Homo sapiens: one gene and its partners. The protein of the gene in region 3 purifies or fractionates together with the protein of the main gene of each other region. This does not show direct contact. Each region holds a gene or a part of one and is shown on either strand. Other genes may lie near its edges.

The links.
Region 1: the proteins of LUZP4 (region 3) and AIF1L purify together in Homo sapiens (affinity purification with mass spectrometry, with the first as the bait; one large-scale study listed by BioGRID). This does not show direct contact.
Region 2: the proteins of LUZP4 (region 3) and THOC2 purify together in Homo sapiens (affinity purification with mass spectrometry, with the first as the bait; one large-scale study listed by BioGRID). This does not show direct contact.
Region 4: the proteins of LUZP4 (region 3) and PALM2AKAP2 purify together in Homo sapiens (affinity purification with mass spectrometry, with the first as the bait; one large-scale study listed by BioGRID). This does not show direct contact.

What each region holds. Positions count from the first base shown.
Region 1 is NC_000009.12:131,113,405-131,117,832, forward strand, and holds part of AIF1L (allograft inflammatory factor 1-like), read left to right. Parts: intron 1-1,172; coding exon 1,173-1,214; intron 1,215-4,351; coding exon 4,352-4,428. UniProt on the Homo sapiens protein: Actin-binding protein that promotes actin bundling. May neither bind calcium nor depend on calcium for function.
Region 2 is NC_000023.11:123,722,251-123,726,678, forward strand, and holds part of THOC2 (THO complex subunit 2), read right to left. Parts: intron 1-4,428. UniProt on the Homo sapiens protein: Component of the THO subcomplex of the TREX complex which is thought to couple mRNA transcription, processing and nuclear export, and which specifically associates with spliced mRNA and not with unspliced pre-mRNA.
Region 3 is NC_000023.11:115,287,600-115,293,142, forward strand, and holds the start of LUZP4 (leucine zipper protein 4), read left to right. Parts: upstream 1-2,115; 5' UTR 2,116-2,160; coding exon 2,161-2,251; intron 2,252-5,543. UniProt on the Homo sapiens protein: Export adapter involved in mRNA nuclear export in cancer cells. Binds and enhances the RNA-binding activity of the nuclear RNA export factor NXF1. Can restore mRNA export function in cells compromised by loss of mRNA export adapters.
Region 4 is NC_000009.12:110,136,572-110,140,999, forward strand, and holds part of PALM2AKAP2 (PALM2-AKAP2 protein isoform 3 (PALM2-AKAP2)), read left to right. Parts: coding exon 1-1,968; intron 1,969-4,428. UniProt on the Homo sapiens protein: Binds to regulatory subunit (RII) of protein kinase A. May be involved in establishing polarity in signaling systems or in integrating PKA-RII isoforms with downstream effectors to capture, amplify and focus diffuse, trans-cellular signals carried by cAMP.

The DNA.
Region 1 (4,428 bases), on a different chromosome or scaffold from region 3:
GGAGGATTGCTTGAACCCAGGAGGCAGAGGTTGCAGTGAGCTGAGATCAAGCCACTGCACTCAAGCCTTGGTGACAGAATGAGACTCCATCTCAAAAAAAAAAAAAAAAAAAAAAAGCATAATGGTTAAGAACGGGGGCTTTGGAGCCAGACTAACATGGGTTCAAGTCCCAACTCTGCCCTAGGTGAGCTGTGTATCCCCCCTGAGATCACGCCACTACACTTCAGCTTGTGTGACAAAGTGAGATGGAGCAAGACTCCTTCTAAAAAAAAGAAGAAAAAGAAAGGGTGGGGAGCCCTGAAGCCATGAGGAAGGGTGCTGAGAATACTTGGGAGAACATTCCAGGCAGAGGGGCAGCGAGCTGGAGCAGGCAGGGAGTGGGCGGGGGCAGCACAGCCTGCAGGAGGGCCTCGGCTTTCTCTGCTGGCTGCTTGTGGGGCAGGATGGACCATGAGGGCCCCACTCTGCCCGGGCAGGGGGTGACCTGCAGAGGCCCCACGGTCCGTTTGACACACTGCTCCCATCTGAACATACCAAGCCCACTGCTCCGACATCCTCCCTCACTGCTAGAAGTTTTCCTGGACTCCTTGATCAGGGAAGTATAACTCAGTCTGTGTGTGAGGTTTGGGGTGATGGTCTGTGTACCCCGGGAAACTGTATGTCCACTTTGTGGGCTAGGGCAGGCCTTTTTCCTGGTTTCAGAATCACAGGTCCCCTGAATCAGTGGTTCCCACACCCGGTTGCCCATCAGAACTGCCTGGGACGCTAAAAAGCACACCCATGCCTGCCCCCACCCTGTCCTTCCACACCCATGAGCCAGAATCCTGGGGCAGGGAATCAGAGCTAGTCACTTTGCTACTAACTCAGATGCAGCTGGTCTGTGCTGCTGGGGACCCGGGAGAAAGCAGCTGCCCTCCTGGTAAGAGGGTCAGAGTGGCCCCCAGCCATCTTTCCCTCGTGGCACCTCTAGGAGAGTAGTCCAGGCAGGATGAGCTCTTTCCCCAGAGGCCATGGCTCAGCGGATGGGGGACTCAGGTCAAGACCCTTGGTAGGGTGCGGGAGGTGGTTCAGACTCCTGAGGACACGGTCATTTGCCCACAAGGGAGCCACTGGGTCCCCACAGGGAGACGCTGCTTCCAAACTAATGCTAGTTTTTGCTCTGTGATTTCCAGAGAAGTACATGGAGTTTGACCTGAACAATGAAGGCGAGATTGGTGAGTGAAGCCTTGAGTGTGTTTAGGGAGGAGGGTGTTAAGTGGGTAGAGGGCTTGAGGGACCCTCTGTGCGGGTGAGGGGCATGGGGCAGTCCGGAAGGCTGGTGAATATGTTGCGCCGAGCCAGCCCCAGCCCCTTGCCTTCTGCCCTGGCACCACTGCCCTCAGACTCCTCCAGACCCTTTGATCCCCTACTGCTTCCCTCCCCACCCACACCTCAGCCTCCCACCCCAGGTGCTACGGGGACTCAGGACAGAGGGTGCCACACCTGCCCAGGGCTGGAGACACTCAGGGTGGACAGGCCCTGGGCCTCCTGGCTGGCATTTCAGTGGCCCTGAAGTCTGTCTTTCCATTGTATGTCATTCGGCAGTTGACAAGTTGCTTTTATATACGTTGATTCTCTCCTTATTGCATCCTGCTGTGCAGCTACTGGCACTTACGTTCTGGTAGGAGACCATACCTGGACCTCACCCGCAAAGAAGTGGTTAAGGCTGGTTTAATTATCCCCATTTTACAGATGAGGAAAGCAAGACTCAGAAAGGTGAAATGGGCCGGGCGCCATGGCTCAAGCCTGTAATCCCAGCACTTTGGGAGGCCAAGGCGTGGGGATCACCTGAGGTCAGGAGTTCAAGACCAGCCTGGCCAACATGACGAAATCCCATCTCTACTAAAAATACAAAAATTAGCTGGGTGTGGTGGCGGGTGCCTGTAATCCCAGCTACTCGGGAGGCTGAGGCAGGAGAACTGCTTGAACCCAGGAGGCGGAGGTTGCAGTGAGCCAAGATTGTGCCACTGCACTCCAGCCTGGGTGACAGAGCGAGATTCTGTCTCAAAAAAAAAAAAAAAAAAAAAAAAAGCAAAAAGAAAGGTGAAATGACTTGCTTACATGGAACACTGGCAGTGAACCAGGGCCCAGCCGTTGGTTTCTGAACAGTTTCCCCCTTTTCCATTTCATCCTGCGTCTCAGATTGATGCTGCTACCGGCATTTCTACTCCTCTTCCTCTGTCCTCTCTCTTTTCTTCTCCCTTTAGAATATTTTGATCATTTTTTTTTTTCTTTAGAAAGAAAATTTGGCCAGGCACAGTGTCTCACGCCTGTAATCCCAGCACTTTGGGAGGCCAAGGCGGGCGGATCACATGAGATCAGGAGTTCGAGACCAGCCTGGGCAACATGGTGAAACCCCATCTTTACTAAAAATGCAAAAATTAGCCGGGCATGGTGGCAGATGCCTGTAATCCCAGCTACTCGGGAGGCTGAGGCAGGAGAATTGCTTTAACCCAGGAGGTGGAGGTTGCAGTGAGCCCAGATTGCACCATTGCACTCCAGCCTAGGGGACAAGAGCAAGACTTCGTCTCAAAAAAAAAAAAAAAAAATTTGGCTTATCAAATAAACACATTTTCATCATTAAAAAAATTGGGGAAACACAGCAAGACAAAAAGACAAAAATGCATCACCCACAACCCCACCTCCCAGAAGTAACTGCTACAAACATTTCCGTTTCTAGCCTTCCACTCTTTATTCTAATCACAAAAGCTGTTTTATATCATTTTTGAGCCTCCTTGAAAAAAATAACTTTCTATTGGTCAGCCCGGCCAGAAAAAATAAGTGAAATAAAACAATGGTGAGTATTTTGATTTATTATTGATTTTTCTTTCTTTTTTTGAGACATAGTCTCATTCTGTTGCCCAGGCTGGAGTGCAGTGGCACAATCTTGGCTCACTGCATCCTCAGCCTCCCAGGTTCAAGCGGTTCTCCTGCCTCAGCCTCCCAAGTAGCTGAGATTACAGGCACGCACCACCACGCCCGGCTAATTTTCGTATTTTTAGTAGAGACGAGGTTTCACCATGTTGGCCAGGCTGGACTCAAACTCCTGGCCTCAAGTGATCCGCCTGCCTCGTCGTCCCAAAGTGCTGGGATTACAGGCATGAGCCATGGCGCCAGCTGATTTTTCTTTTGAAATATAGTTAATGGCTGCATTGTAGGAATGGATTCTAATTTGTTTAGCCGATGCCTTTGTGTGGACCATTTGGATGCCTTCCAATTTTAACTATTATTGATAATCCTGTAAAGAACCTCTTTGTACATGAGTGCTTGTTCACCTCCCTGGTTATTTCTGTAGAGGAAATCTCAGGAAGGGGACACTGGGTCAAAGGCTTTTGAAGCATCTTGCCGAACTGCCCGAGAAAGGTCCTGCCAACTTCAGAGTCTGGCAGTGCGTGTGCAGCCCTTTCCCCCTTTCCTGGAGAAGGCTGCCCAGCTCTCTCTGAATGCGTGGACATCCTGGCACCTTTGGGCCTGGCCCCAGTCCCGCCCGCCTTGCCAGGAGGAGCATTGGCTGCGCCACGGCCCATGGCCCCTACCCCAGCCCTCTCCTGCCATCCTTAGATGACCCATTGTTCACTGGAGAACAATCCAAAGGAAATTGCCTCAGATCTTGGTGGGAGCTGGGCGGTCAGAGACAGCACCGCCTCGGGCTGGAGTGACATTCTGGGGCCTCCCTTGTTTTTCTTGAATTTTGTTCTTTTGTTGGTTTTCCTGCTCTGTGGGATATTTTTGGCATCCTCTCCCTTCCAGCCGGGGCAGAGCCCTAGGACAGCAGGACAGGAGTGGCACGTGGGGAGAAGCCACCTGCCACTCGGCACCCAGCAGAGTTACTTTCAATGCCTGACTTCCTGACCCTGCCACACTGGGCATAACTCCCCAGGCAGCAGGAGAGTGGGCACCCAGCCCACCCTAACTGCAGGAAATAGCAGAGCCCACAGTCATGGTGTGAAGAAAGTGCTCTGGGCCGGTGCTTCCTGCACAGAGATCCCTGAATGATCCCATCCACCCGTTCCACCGTTGGTGGGAGCAGGGGTTCAGAGAGGTTAAGTAGTGTGCCCCAGATCCCAGAGCCAGGAATAGCAGAGCTCGATTCCAATGCAAGCCCGTCTGACTCTAGAAGCCCAGGTCACTAACCACTAGCCTATACGGCCTCCAAAGAGAGCAGGGAGGGCGTGATGGGCTCCTCCTCCCTAGAGAAGGAGTGCAGACGCCAAGTTTCTAGGCGTGGGGTGCCTGAGTGGAGCTTTCCCAGCTTCCCTGCTAAGCCCCAGCAGCCCATCTCCACTTAACAGATCTGCTTTTCCCCCGGCAGACCTGATGTCTTTAAAGAGGATGATGGAGAAGCTTGGTGTCCCCAAGACCCACCTGGAGATGAAGAAGATGATCTCA
Region 2 (4,428 bases), 8.4 Mb from region 3:
TAAAGACACATGCACACGTATGTTCACTGCAGCACTATTCACAAGAGTAAAAACTTGGTACCAACCCAAATGCCCATCAATGATAGACTGGATAAAGAAAATGTGGCACATATATACCATGGAATACTATGCAACCATAAAAAAGGATGAGTTCATGTCCTTTGCAGGGACATGGATGAAGCTGGAAACCATCATTCTCAGCAAACTAACACAGGAACAAAAAAACCAAACACCACATGTTCTCACTCATAAGTGAGAGCTGAACAATGAGAACACATGGACACAGGGACAGGAACATCACACACTGGTGCCTGTTGGGGGTTGGGGAGCAAGGGGAGGGAGAGCATTAGGACACATACCTAATGCACGTGGGGCTTAAAACTTAGATGACAGGTTGATAGGTGCAGCAAACCACCATGGCAAATGTATGCCTATGTAACAAACCTGCACATTCTGCACATGTATCCCAGAACTTAAAATTAAAAAAAAATGACAGTTGTAACACATGCAGTGTAACCCAAAAAGGGCTCAAATACAGACTATATAAAGAACCCCTACAAATCAGTGAAAGAAACTCAAGCAACTCAATAACAAAAAAGGCAAAAGATATGACAGAGACCTTTCACAAAAAGAAATAAGAACTCCAGTACAGGCGTGGTGGCTCACGTCTGTAATCCCAGCACTTTGGGAGGCCAAGGCGGGCGGATCATCGGAGGTCCGGAGTTCAAGACCAGCCTGCCCAACATGGTGAAACCCTGTCTCTACTAAAAACACAAAAATTAGCCAGGTGTGGTGGCACACACCTGTAATCCCAGCTACTCAGGAGGCTGAGGCACAAGAATCGCTTGAACTCGGGAGGCAGAGGTTGCAGTGAGCCAAGATCACGCCACCACCGCACTCCAAACTAGGCGACAGAGCAAGACTCTGTCTCAAACAAACAAAAAAAAAGAAGTACTCCAAATGACCAATAACATATAAAAAGATGCTCATGGAAATATAAGCCACAGTAAAATTACATACATATTTACAAAAAATTTAAGTCTGACAATATCAAACATAGTGACAATGTGAAACAAGGTCAACTCATACACTGCTGGTGGGAGTGTACACTGAAATAGCCTGGCAATATCTAACAGAGCTAAAGTGTAACCTATAACCCAGAGATTCTACACCTAGTATATACTCCACAAAAACACATGCTTGTATACACCAAAACTGTTGTATAATAATGTTTCTATTGGCACTGTTAGTAATAGCCAAAAACTAGACGCAACAAAAATGTTTAACAAGACAGCATAAAAATAAACAAATACTGGTATACGATGGAGTATCTTGCAACTATGAAAATGAATGAACTAAAAAAAAAAGGAAAATCAATGAACTGCAAACATACAATATGGATGAATCTTAAAAGTCATAACTGTTGAACAAAAGCAGCCAGAAACAGTAGGATAAATATTCAATGATTTCATTTATATGAAGTTCAAGAAAAAAATTAAACATATTGGGTAATGACACTGCAAAGAAAATCAAGAAAGTTTCTTTGAGTTGAAGATGCAAGGTTAAAAAAAGAGAAAAATCAAGAGGAAAACCATAAATGTCAGGATAATGTTTACTACATGAGAGGTGGGAAAGGTTTGATCGGGAACAAACAGTATGTTGCCTTGACCTGGGTGTAAGTTACATGGGGGTGCATCTTACAGTGATTATTTTAAGCTCTATATTGAGGTTTCATGACTTCTCTGTATTTTCATTACATTTCACAATTTAGAAAAAAATTCTTCCATGTTGCACAAGGCTTTAAAGAGAGCCAATGAATTCATATAGAAGAGTTTCTTACTCTTTTATATCTAGTAATCCTTTTTCTAGTCAATGAAACAAATAATTTTAAGACTTACAGAACCTGCTTATATATCACATCTAAGGCTAAATAAGATGCCAGATTACAATCATCCACAGAGAGATTATCTACTTTGCAGATTATACATAACCTTGCAGCTCACCTCTGTGCCTTCTGATTATGTCAATACCCTATCATCAGGATGAGCAGGGTAAGGTTATTAAAAGTCAACAGAGTAAACTTTTGCTGGTCAACAATTCACTTCTAGGTTTCACAAATATGTTCAAAACCAAAAAATAAAAAGGCAATGGAAGCCGGGCACTGTAGCTCACACCTGTAGTCCCAGAACTCTGGGAGGCTAAGGTGGGTGGATCAGTTGAGGTCAAGAGTTTGAGACCAGCCTGGCCAACATGATGAAACCTCGTCTCCACTAAAAATACAAAAATTAGCTGGACGCAGTGGTGCGCACCTGTAATCCCAGCTACTCTACAGGCTGAGGCAGGAGAATCGCATGAACCCAGGAGGCAGAGGTTGCAGTGAGCCAAGACTGCATCACCGCACTCCAACCTGGGCAACAGAGCGAGACTCTGTCTCAGAAAAAATAAAAATAAAAAATAAGGGCAATGGAGAGCATCTACTAAATTAAATATTTAGTTTGAAAATGTCAGGCCAGGCATAGTAGCTCACGTCTGTAATCCCAGCACTTTGGGAGGCCAAGGTGGGTGAATCACTTGAGCTCAGGAGTTCGAGACCAGCCTGGTAATATCACCTGAGCTCAGGAGTTCAAGACCAGCCTCGTAACGTGGTGAAACCCTGTCTCTACCAAAAACACAAACAATTAGCAGAGCATGGTAGCACGCGCCTGTGGGCCCAGCTACTCAGGAGGCTGAGGTGGGAGGATCGCCAGAGCCCAGGAAGTTGAGACTGCAGTGAGCCAAGATCACACCAGTGAGCCATGATCGCACCACTGCACTCCAGCCTGCACTCCAGGGTGACAGAGCAAGATCCCATCTCAAAAACAAAAACAAAGAAAGAAAATGTCATTTAGCTATTAAACATTTCTCACTAAAAAAATTATTCTGAGAGTACCTTACAAATGGTAAGCTGGTTTAAGTTTGATCCCAAGTACTTTCAACTACTTCCCTGGAGAACTAGACAGGCCTTCTAATGGGTTGAGAAGAGAACAGTGGTTGGTTAAGAACACTGGTTAAAGTTGGATATGCTGGCTCATGCCTGTAATCCCAACACTTTGGGAGGCCGAAGTGGGAGGATCACTTGAGCACAGGAGTACAAGACCAGCCTAGCCAGCCTAGCCAACAAGTGAGACCCCATCTCTACAAAAAAAAAAAAAAAATAGAAAAAAAAAGTAGCCAAGTGTGGTGGCACATGCCTATAATCCCAGCTACTTGGGAGGTTGAGCTGGGAGGATCACTTGAGCCTGCAGGTCGAGGCTGCAGTGAGTGGTGATCGTAGTACCACTGCACTCCAGCCTGGGCAGCCTGGGGAACAGAGTGAGACCCTATCTCAAAAAAAAAAAAAAAAAAAAAACCACGATTAAGCTTCTAATTTCACAAAATACGTTAAACCTAACATAAGTTTATCTGGAATATAAAACAAAATCAATCTTCCTTCCACCAGGCAACACAGAAATAACATCTGCTTCAGACTAGCATCAGAAGATATAACCTAAAAATGCCATCTAGGTCTTTTGTGGAGAGGAGATATATAAGTATATCAAGGTTGCTTCAATATTTACTATGAAGTATTAAAACAATTCCCTCTTTGGGTTCTCATTTCCCTTATAGGGTCAATTCTCTTTAGAATATAATAGCAGGGGCCAGGCACCGTGGCTCACACCTATAATCCCAGCACTTTTAAGAGGCCGAGGAGGGCAGATTACTTGAGGTCAAGAGTTTGAGACTAGCCTAGCCAATATGGTGAAACCCCGTCTCTACTAAAACTACAAAAATTAGCCGGGCTTGGTGGCCAATGCCTGTAATCCCAGCTACTCAGGAAGCTGAGGCAGGAGAATCACCTGAACCCAGGAAGCGGAGGTTGTAGTGGGTCGAGATCGCACCACTGCACTCCAGCCTGGGCGACAGAGTGAGACTCTGTCTCAAAAAAAATAATAATAATAATAGCAGGAAGCACCATGTCTTTGAAAGAAGAATTTAACAGAATAAAGTAACTCATCTTTCCCTTTGTACTCGGGCTACTAAAATGCAATTTCAAATATTCCTTCATATAGAAAAAGAGAAAAAAGAAAAAGAGGAAAGGAAAAGGAAAGGATGAGAAAGAAAGAGAAATAAAATAATTGTTTAAAATTCCTCCTTATTCACTTGAGCCCAGGAGGTCAAGGCTGCAGTGAGCCAAGATCGTGCCACTGCACTCCAGCCTGGGCAACAGAGTGAGACCCTGTCTCAAAAAAAAAAAAAAAAAACTTCTCCTTATAACAATGCACTTGCTTCCTCACATTTTCAATAGTTTCATTTCTATTTAACAATCTTAATGCATGTCTTTTGCAAAAAGCCTTCCAATGGTTGCGGGGAAGAGGTTGCATCAGTGTTGCAAACTCCTACCTAGACTAA
Region 3 (5,543 bases):
CCATGATCTAATATCTGTTGATCTCTTTAGACTCATCTCTCAGTACCCACCACATGGAATGAATAGAACTTTCCACAGTGTGTTAGTGGTGCTGCTTCCTCTGCCAAGAAATACCATTCCCACCCCTACAATTATTCCCTAATTTCTCAGGATTTAAATAATTTTTTCTTGATTCCTTGGGTGAATTTTCTCCTTTGAATCCCAAATACATTTTGTACATACCTGTATCCTCAGAACCTAACACAGCAGGAGCTCAGTATTTGTTGACAGACTAAATTACAGCACCTAAATTAATATTTTGCATGCATTTATTGTCTTCAGGCAATTGTATATGCATGGAGAAACAGATTTATTTATTAATCTTTAGGTCCCAGGTGCGAAGCATTTACTTAAATACAATAAATAGTTAAATAATTTACATTTTTCAAAATCTCTTCCGGCATTTATTTATGTTGTGGATTCTGTAATAGCTTGAACATATTTTTACCTTTGAAAATGTATTAATTTGATTTTTATTTCTACTGAAGAGCCAGTGACAAGATTTCTCTAATATTTTAAAGTAGCATTTGATTGAGCAGTATTAGGTGATAACAAGAACAATTACATTTTTCTTAAGAAATGTCATGGACACATCTTCAAGGTCATTGAACAGCATGTGGCAGGCCGGGTATGGTGGCTCATGCCTGTAATCCCAGCACTTTGGGAGGCCAAGGTGGGAGGATTGCTTGAGGCCAGGAGTTTGAGATCAGCTTGGCCAACATGGTGAGATCCCCATCTCTACAGCCCAAGAGGAGCCTGGGAGGTTAAGGCATGCCAACCTTGGCAACAGATCGAGGAAAGAAAGAAAAAAGAAAAGAAAGAAAAGAAAGAAAAAGAAAGGAAGGAAGGAAGGAAAAAAGGAAGGAAGGAAGCAAGGAAGCAAGGGAGAGAAGGGAAGGGAAGGGGAGGGGAGGGGAGGGGAGGGAAGGGAAGGGAATAGCCGGGTGTGGTGAGGGAGGAAGGCCGAGGCGGGTGGAAAGAGAGAAGTTAGGAAGAAGGAAGGAAGGGAGGGAGGGAGGGAGGAAGGAAGGAAGGAAAAGAAAGAGAGGAAGGAAGGAAGAAAGAGAGAGAGAAAGAAAGAAAAAAAGAAAGAAAGGGAAAAGAAAGAAAGAGAAAAAGAAAGAAAGAAAGAAAAGAAAGAGAAAGAAAAGAAAGAAAGGAAGAAAGGAAGGAAGGAAAAGAAATAACCAGGTGCGGTGAGGGAGGGATGCCAAGGCAGATGGAAAGAAAGAAGTTAGGAAGAAGAAAGAGAGGGTGGGAGGGAGGAAGGGAGGGAGGGAGGAAGGAAGGAAGGAAAGAAGGAAGGGAGGGACAGAGGGAGGGAGGGAAAGTGTGGGCGCTGTGGTATGAGGGTAGCACAGACGGGTAGATCACTTGAGCCCAGGAGACCAGCCTGGCCAACATGGTGAAACCCTATCTCTACTAAAAACACAAAAATTAGCCAGGCGTGGTGGCGCGCTCCTGTAATCTCAGCTACTTGGGAGGCTGACGTGGGAGAATCGCTTGAACCCCAGAGGCGGAGGTTGCAGTGAACGGAGTTGGCGCCACTTCACGCCAGCCTGGGTGACAAAGAGATACTGTGTCTCAAAAAAACAAAAAACAAAAAACAAAAACGAAAAGAAAGACAGAAAAGAAAGCGTGTGGCATTGCAAACCTGTGAATCCTCCCTAGATGTTAAATTTGTGCTCCCTCTTGGAATTTGAGAGAAGCAGAGCATCAGCCCATTAAGTCAAGATTATAAGGTTTTATTCGCCATGAATGTCAACAGCAAAGAGGAGAAATGGGTCCTAGGAACTGTGAAAGGCAAGGGCCGGAACACCACATACACTAGAAACTTGTAGCCAACTACATAGTGCTCTAGGTGGAGAGAATATTTTTAGAAAGGGGTATCGGGTGGGAGATGGGCGGGTCTTTCCTTTTTTTTTCTTCTAGCGAGCCAAGCTCCTGATAGGAGACTTGGTGAGGGGTAACGCCAAGCTCCACCCCTTGGGGCTTAGCAACACCGAAGGGAGAGGCTATGATTGGAGGATCAGGTTAGTCCACCACTCTGCTCCTCCTGCGCGGTGAGGGGGTGGTACACGCGCCCTACCTCGGAGTGTGTGGCGCCATGATGCAGGGAAGATGGCTTCGTTTCGGAAGCTAACGCTTTCTGAAAAAGTGCCGCCAAATCATCCCAGTCGGAAAAAGGTTAACTTCCTAGATATGTCTCTAGGTATGTAGATCTCGGATCCCAGTCTCCACTAGTTTGGGCTCACTGGTCTTGAGCGCAAGACCTCGGCATAGCGCTTACTAGAAGTGGCGTCGGGAGGAACACACCAGTTCGAGGAGAGGCTTCCCCTTCAGGGCATCTCCGCACCTGCCCCACCCTGACGAACCCTGGGACCACTTGGCCCCTATCCCTCCTCTCCTCTTTTTCTCCTCACCTCCAGCCCTCTCCTTTCAGGTGGGGAACTGAGGGAGGCTGACCAGAAGCGCGTGGGGATTAAGGATTGCTGAAAGGGGCAGGCGGAGAAAATAGACCGCTATTAACGTGTATTTTACTCTCCTAAGAATTGATACCTAACTACTGGCCTCCTTCAAACACATGGAGCCAAGTGCTCTTCTCAGTCCAAGCGGATGTCATAAATCACTAGATTCCAGGGCCCGGAGGAGCAAGCCTTAGGCTATTTTACTAGGGATCCCGGCGTGGTAGTGCTAGGAGTTGTTGGTGGGTTGGTGTATCTGCTTTGTTGGCTGGTGGTTATTCGAAGGGGTGGTTGGTCCATTTATTTGCTTGTTGGCTGGTGGTTATTCGCTCTGGATAGCCTTTCTTTGCTGGCGCTCTCTAGTCTCTAACCTGAGACCTCTACACGGAGAGTGGAACCTTAGAAAAAAGAACTCCTTTATCAAGGCCCCTAACCTCCTCCATTCGCACCAAACCCAGAAAAAGTGGATTTTACTTGGACCAGTTCCTCTGCTATTATCCATCTTAGAAATGGGGGAGGAGGGGAGGGAATAGACTTTCCAAGCCAGATAGGGAGTGAGCAGAGCTGAGTAGAGAGGATGGAAGCTGACTTTAGAAATGGAGAAGGGCATCAGAGCACGGAAGAAGGAAACTGTAGAAATGGGGGAAGGAGGACAAAACAGAAAAGGGCTACTTTAGTTAGGGGTGTGTGTGTGTGTGTGAAACGTGCTTGCTCTGTTTCTCAGGCAGGTGTGCAGTGGCATCATCTTGGCTCAGTGCAGCCTCCGCCCCCTGGGGTCAAGCGATCCTCCCACCTCAGTCGACAGAGTAGCTGGGACTACAGGCACGCGCCACCACACCTGTCTAGGTTTTTGTTTTTTTGTTTTGTTTTGTTTTGTTTTTTAGTAGAGCGAGGTTTCACCATGTTGCCCAGACTGGTCTCCTGGTCTCAAGTGATCCGCCCTTCTCGGCCTCCCAAAGTCCTGGGATTACAGGCATAAGCCACCGCCCCCGGCCTAGTTAGTTATTTTTGAGATAAGGTCAGGGACTGTTGTCTGGGTTGGAGTGTAGTGGCACGATCACGGCTCACTGTGGCCTCAAGCTCTCAGGCTCAATCAAGTGATCCTACCACCTCAGCCTCTCGAGTAGCTGGAACCACAGGTGCTCACTACCATGCCCACCTAATTTTTAAATTTTTGTAGAGATTGGGTCTCCTTATGTTGCCCAGGCTGGTCTCGAACTCCTGGCCTCAAGCAATCCTCCCGGCTCGGCCTCCCAAAATGATGGGATTGTGGGCCTGAGCCACTGCGCCTGGCCAAGGGCCACTTTAGAAATGAGAGGGGGAGAGGCAGAGCAGTGGGAGCTGAGCTTCAATGTGGAAGCGCAGGAGTGGAGCAAGGAGAAGCAGGAACAAGGAGGGTGGACCTCAGAAATTGATGGAGCAGTGGAAAGAGGGTTCACCTTAGAGATGAGGGTAGGGGAGCAGAGCAGGGAGGGCTGAACTTTAAAAGGGGCAGGATAAGTGGAGGGAGAGTGTACCATAGAAATGAAGAGGGTCAGCTGGGCTTGGTGGCTCATTCATGTAATCCCAGCACTTTGGGAGGTTGAGGTGGGTGGCTCACTTGAGGCCAGGAGTTCGAGACCAGCCTGGCCAACATGGTGAAACCCCATCTCTACTAAAAATACAAAGATTAGCTGGGCATGGTGTTGCGTGCCTGTAGTCCCAGCTATGCAGGAGGCTGAGGCAGGAGAATTGCTTGAACCTGGGAGATGGAGGCTGCAGTGAGTTGAGATCGCCCCACTGCACTCCAGCCTGGGTGCCAGAGTGAGACTTCATCTCAGAAAAAAAAAAAAGTAATGAAATGAAGAGGGGCGCCATGGCTCATGCCTGTAATCCCAGGAGGCAGAGGTCAGGCTGGTCTTGGAACTCCTGACCTCAAGTGATACACCCACCTCGGCCTCACACAGTGCTGCGATTACAGGCGTGGGCCACCTCACCCGGCCTAAACTTTCTTTATAGTGTCCTTTGAAGTCCCGAAGTTTCAGAATTTGATAAAATACAATTTATCTGTTTTTTGTTGTTGTTCATGCTTTGGTGTCAAATCTAGAAGATCATGAAGATCATACCCTTGTTTCCTTCTGAGAGTTTTCTAGTTTTAACTCTTAAATTTACATCTGTGATCCATTTTGAGTTAATTCTTGTATATGGGGTGAGTTAAGAGCCAACTTCATTCTGTTGCATTTTGATGTCTAATTGTTCCAACACTACTTGTTAAAAAGACTAATTTTCCTCCATTGAAAGCTCTTCTTGGTGGAATTGCTTTCTTAATTTCGTTTTTGGATAGTTCATTGCTGGTATATGTACATAGAATTAATTTTTGCATATAGATCTTGTATCCTGCAGCCTTGCTGAGTGTGTTCATTAGTGCTAATCTCCGTGTGTGTGTGTGTATCTTTAGGAATTTCTGCATACAAGATCATGATATCTGAGAACAGAGATTTACTTTTTTCTAATCTGCTTGCCTTTCATTCTTTTTCTTGACTAATTGCTCTGGATGGAATTTCTAGCAAAATGTTAATTAGATGCGGTGAGATTGGACATCCTTGACTTGTTTCTGATCTTAGGGAGAAAAGCTTTCAGTTTTTCACCATTAATCATCATTTTACCTTTGGTTGGGTTTTTGTAGATGCCCTTATGAGGTTGAGGAATTTACCTGCCTCCCACTTTACTTCTGAGGGGGAATGGCCCTGAAAAGTAACTAAGTATTTTTTGTTGTTGTTGTCTTTAAGATGTTTTTAGCAATCTATTTTAAGATCGGTATCAATTTCCTCTTCTAAGACATGGTCCCTGTTGATCCCATACTGCTACTTCCCCCTACCCCAACTTCATCACAAGTTCTGAAATATTTTGTGGCATTAAAATGACTTTAAAAATAATATTTGGTCACTGGCCAGGGCTGGGACTAGGGTGAGGTAAATGAGGCACTTGCTTCCAGTATAAAGTTCAAGGAGTCACAAAAAAAAAATTTGTTAATAGGGATAATTAATATTTTAATGAAAT
Region 4 (4,428 bases), on a different chromosome or scaffold from region 3:
CTCCTCACATCGAGCTCAGTAATAGCAGCCCTGACCCCATGGCAGAGGCAGAAAGAACAAATGGCCATTCCCCCAGCCAGCCTAGAGATGCGCTGGGGGACAGCCTGCAGGTGCCTGTCAGCCCCAGCTCCACAACCAGCTCACGGTGTTCTTCCCGAGATGGAGAGTTCACTCTCACCACACTGAAAAAGGAGGCCAAGTTTGAGCTGCGTGCCTTCCATGAGGACAAGAAGCCCTCCAAGCTCTTTGAGGATGACGAGCATGAGAAAGAACAATACTGCATTAGAAAAGTGAGGCCTTCAGAGGAGATGCTGGAGCTGGAAAAGGAGAGGAGAGAGCTCATCCGCAGCCAGGCCGTCAAGAAGAATCCTGGCATTGCAGCAAAATGGTGGAATCCCCCGCAGGAAAAAACCATCGAGGAGCAGCTGGACGAGGAACATCTGGAGTCGCACAAAAAGTACAAGGAGCGCAAAGAGAGAAGGGCACAGCAGGAACAGTTGCTGCTGCAGAAGCAGTTACAGCAGCAGCAGCAGCAGCCCCCATCGCAGCTCTGCACAGCCCCTGCCTCTTCTCATGAACGCGCAAGCATGATTGACAAAGCAAAGGAGGACATTGTCACAGAGCAGATAGATTTCTCTGCTGCTCGCAAACAATTTCAGCTGATGGAGAATTCCAGGCAAGCGGTGGCCAAGGGCCAGAGTACACCCAGGCTGTTCTCCATCAAGCCTTTCTACAGGCCTCTGGGGTCAGTCAACTCAGACAAGCCACTGACTAATCCGAGACCACCTTCTGTCGGGGGACCTCCAGAAGACAGTGGTGCCTCAGCCGCCAAGGGACAGAAATCCCCCGGTGCCCTGGAGACCCCATCGGCAGCAGGAAGCCAGGGCAACACAGCCTCTCAGGGGAAGGAAGGGCCCTACAGCGAGCCTTCTAAACGTGGGCCCTTATCTAAACTGTGGGCTGAGGATGGAGAATTTACGAGCGCCCGGGCTGTCCTCACTGTGGTCAAGGATGATGACCATGGGATTTTGGATCAGTTCTCAAGATCTGTCAATGTCTCCTTGACCCAAGAGGAGCTTGACTCTGGTCTGGACGAATTGTCGGTGAGGTCTCAGGATACCACAGTCCTGGAGACCCTATCCAATGATTTCAGCATGGACAACATCAGTGACAGCGGGGCATCCAATGAGACAACCAATGCCCTCCAGGAAAATTCACTGGCTGATTTTTCTCTGCCCCAGACACCACAAACTGACAACCCCTCAGAGGGCCGAGGAGAAGGCGTCTCCAAGTCATTTAGTGATCATGGTTTCTATTCCCCTTCCTCCACGCTGGGGGACTCTCCGTTGGTTGATGACCCCTTGGAGTATCAGGCTGGCCTCCTGGTGCAGAATGCCATTCAACAAGCCATAGCCGAGCAGGTGGATAAAGCTGTGTCCAAAACCAGCAGGGATGGAGCAGAGCAACAGGGACCTGAAGCGACTGTAGAGGAAGCTGAAGCTGCGGCTTTCGGCTCAGAAAAGCCTCAGAGCATGTTTGAGCCACCTCAGGTGTCTTCTCCTGTTCAAGAGAAAAGGGATGTATTACCAAAGATTCTGCCTGCTGAAGACAGGGCGCTCAGGGAAAGGGGGCCCCCCCAGCCACTGCCAGCTGTGCAGCCCAGTGGCCCGATTAACATGGAGGAGACCAGGCCCGAAGGAAGCTATTTCAGCAAGTACTCGGAGGCAGCTGAGCTGAGAAGCACAGCCTCCCTCCTGGCCACTCAAGAATCTGACGTGATGGTTGGGCCTTTCAAGCTGAGGTCCAGGAAACAGCGGACTTTGTCCATGATTGAGGAAGAGATCCGAGCAGCTCAGGAAAGGGAAGAGGAGCTGAAGAGGCAGAGACAAGTCTTGCAGAGTACGCAGAGCCCCAGGACAAAGAATGCCCCATCACTGCCCTCCAGAACATGCTACAAAACTGCTCCAGGTAAGTGAGGTGCCTCACATGAGAGACAGATGCCACAGCAGTCTGTTGTTGTTGATTCCAGCTCATGGGTTTCTATGTGGAGCCTCCTCTGTGTGTGTCTGGAATAAGTGTTGGGGGGACACTGGCATGAGAATTCCAGCATACAGGGACATGCAACAAAAGTGTCAAGAGTGTCCTCTAGAAGAACCCTGAGCTTGCATGGAGTTTGCCACTTTCCAGAGGATGCAATAGCTCCTTCTTTGTTGTTCTGCTTTGGCCTTGGTTTATTATAAAGAATTGTTCTCTTTTACTTGAAAGCCTGCCTCTTGTCTGAAGGAGAGGCTGTTTGTGGCATAGAACCAGAGTGGACCCATGTGTGGACTATGTTGGAATCAGTAGCTTGACCCTCAGTATCTAGTTAAACCCATCTGATTTGGGAGTTGTCCTCTACTAACTAACCCCTTCTGAATGCTGGTTTCCTTCCCAGCAATGATAGTCATGGCATGGCATTGCAGACTGGTCCATGCAAAATGCTTTTGTTCATCTTCCGTGTAACTGGGTTTTTCTTCTTAAGTCACCACAAAGCAACTACTTTGGAATCAGGAGTGGACGCATCTGTTCTTGTCATGTGACCCATTTGGAAAAGTTGAATTACTCTTCACAAAGGCAGGTCTTTAATCCCTTCATATTGCCTGGGTGGTCCCTTTTTTGAATACTTTGTATAGATGGTTGATGTTAATTAGAGTGCTAATTATTATTGCTACCATATGGATAACAGTGTGACCAGTTGTTTTTATTTTCCATGTGAATGTGATAGCAATCAGGGATCCACAGATCTTCAGCTATGGAAAACGCTGCTCAAAGCGTGGTCCAAGCTAGTCCAGGAATCATTTGCTACTGGTTCATTCTAAGTTCAGACATCGAGAGTAAGCATTTGAAAACTCCTATTGCAATGTGATATTGTCCTGAAATCCAAGCGTGGGATTTTTGTATTTTACAAAACTATTGCTTCATAATGGACTGGTGGGGAAAAACTGATGCTTCACCAGAGAAAATTTAAGAATCGTTACCCTAAAGGATAATTGTTGACACTTATCTTGGTCCATCCATATCTTAATCTTATCTTGACACTTGGCTTCCATCAAACCTACAATGACTCAAGGTCACTCTTCTCATTAACTTTTTAAAATTGGAAAGAATCTCCAACCTAAAGAAAAGTTCCCAAGTACAGTACAAATGTCTTTCTGTTTTGAATCATTTGAGAGTAAATTGCCAACATGATGCCCCATCACCCCCAATTTTGTAGACTGCTCCCTAATGTGGGTCTCTGATGTTTTCATATGATGATTTTCAGGTTGTGCATCTTTGGTAGGAATACCACCAAATTGATGCTGTGTTCTCACTGTATCCAAACAGGTAGCACGTGGTATTAGTTTGTCCCATTATGGTGACAGGTGTCAACTCTGATCACTTAATATTGATTATGATCACTCCATTGAGGGAGTGTCTGCCAGCCTTCTGCACAGTAGTTACTTTTTTCTTTTGTAATTAATATACATTTTGTAGGGCAATACTGTGGTATTCTGCAATTTTCACCCCATTTCTTATCAAACTTCATTTATTTATGTCGGTATGATCTCATGGATTCCTGTGATATTCAATGGATTCCTGTGATATTCAATGGATTATAATCCATTTCTTTTATTATTTTTATCCGCAACTTGTTCAGTTACAGCTCACGGGAGCCCTTTCTGGCTAACTTGTATGTCCTTTGGAGATGTCCCCGTTTTCCTTTGAATGCTTCCTCAATTTCTGGCATCGCAAGATATTCCAGTTTCATCTTATACTTTCCCAACCCTGAAATCGGTCGTCTCTCTGAAGAGCACTAGTTTCTGATGATGGAGAATGGTATTTAGAAACAAAGATCTGAGTGCTAGCTGTGCTCATTGTTATTGCATTGTCACTAGCCCCAGGCACTCTCAGTGGACAGAATTAGAAATTACACACATCTCTCTTGAAAACCATGAGTTTGCCCTGATGCTTTTTAATTCTTATTTAATAAAAAGTTCATTCATACTTTCTCCCTTTCCATATTTGTGACCACCTTCTTGACAAAAGATACTTAGTTTTTATTATCTGTAATATGTTTATTATTTAACTAGCCCTCCTTCCCCCACACTCCAGTATAACCAGTCTCCTGTTTTCCTCACCAAACTTGGGCTCCGACATCATTTTCCAGGTGGCCACTGCCACGACCCTTCACCAACACCCTCCTTACCCTCCCTGGGCTCCAACACTACAGCAGGTACCATCTTATTCAGCCTGGCCTAGTGACTTTTGGACTGAGTTGTTTGGGAAGGAAAGGAAAGGGAGGAAGAAGAGGAAGAGTGCAGTGACTTTCTTAATATATGCCATCAAATTGGTGATAAAGTTTCAACAAATGAATAATGGGGGGGCGGGCACAAACATTCAGACCGTAGC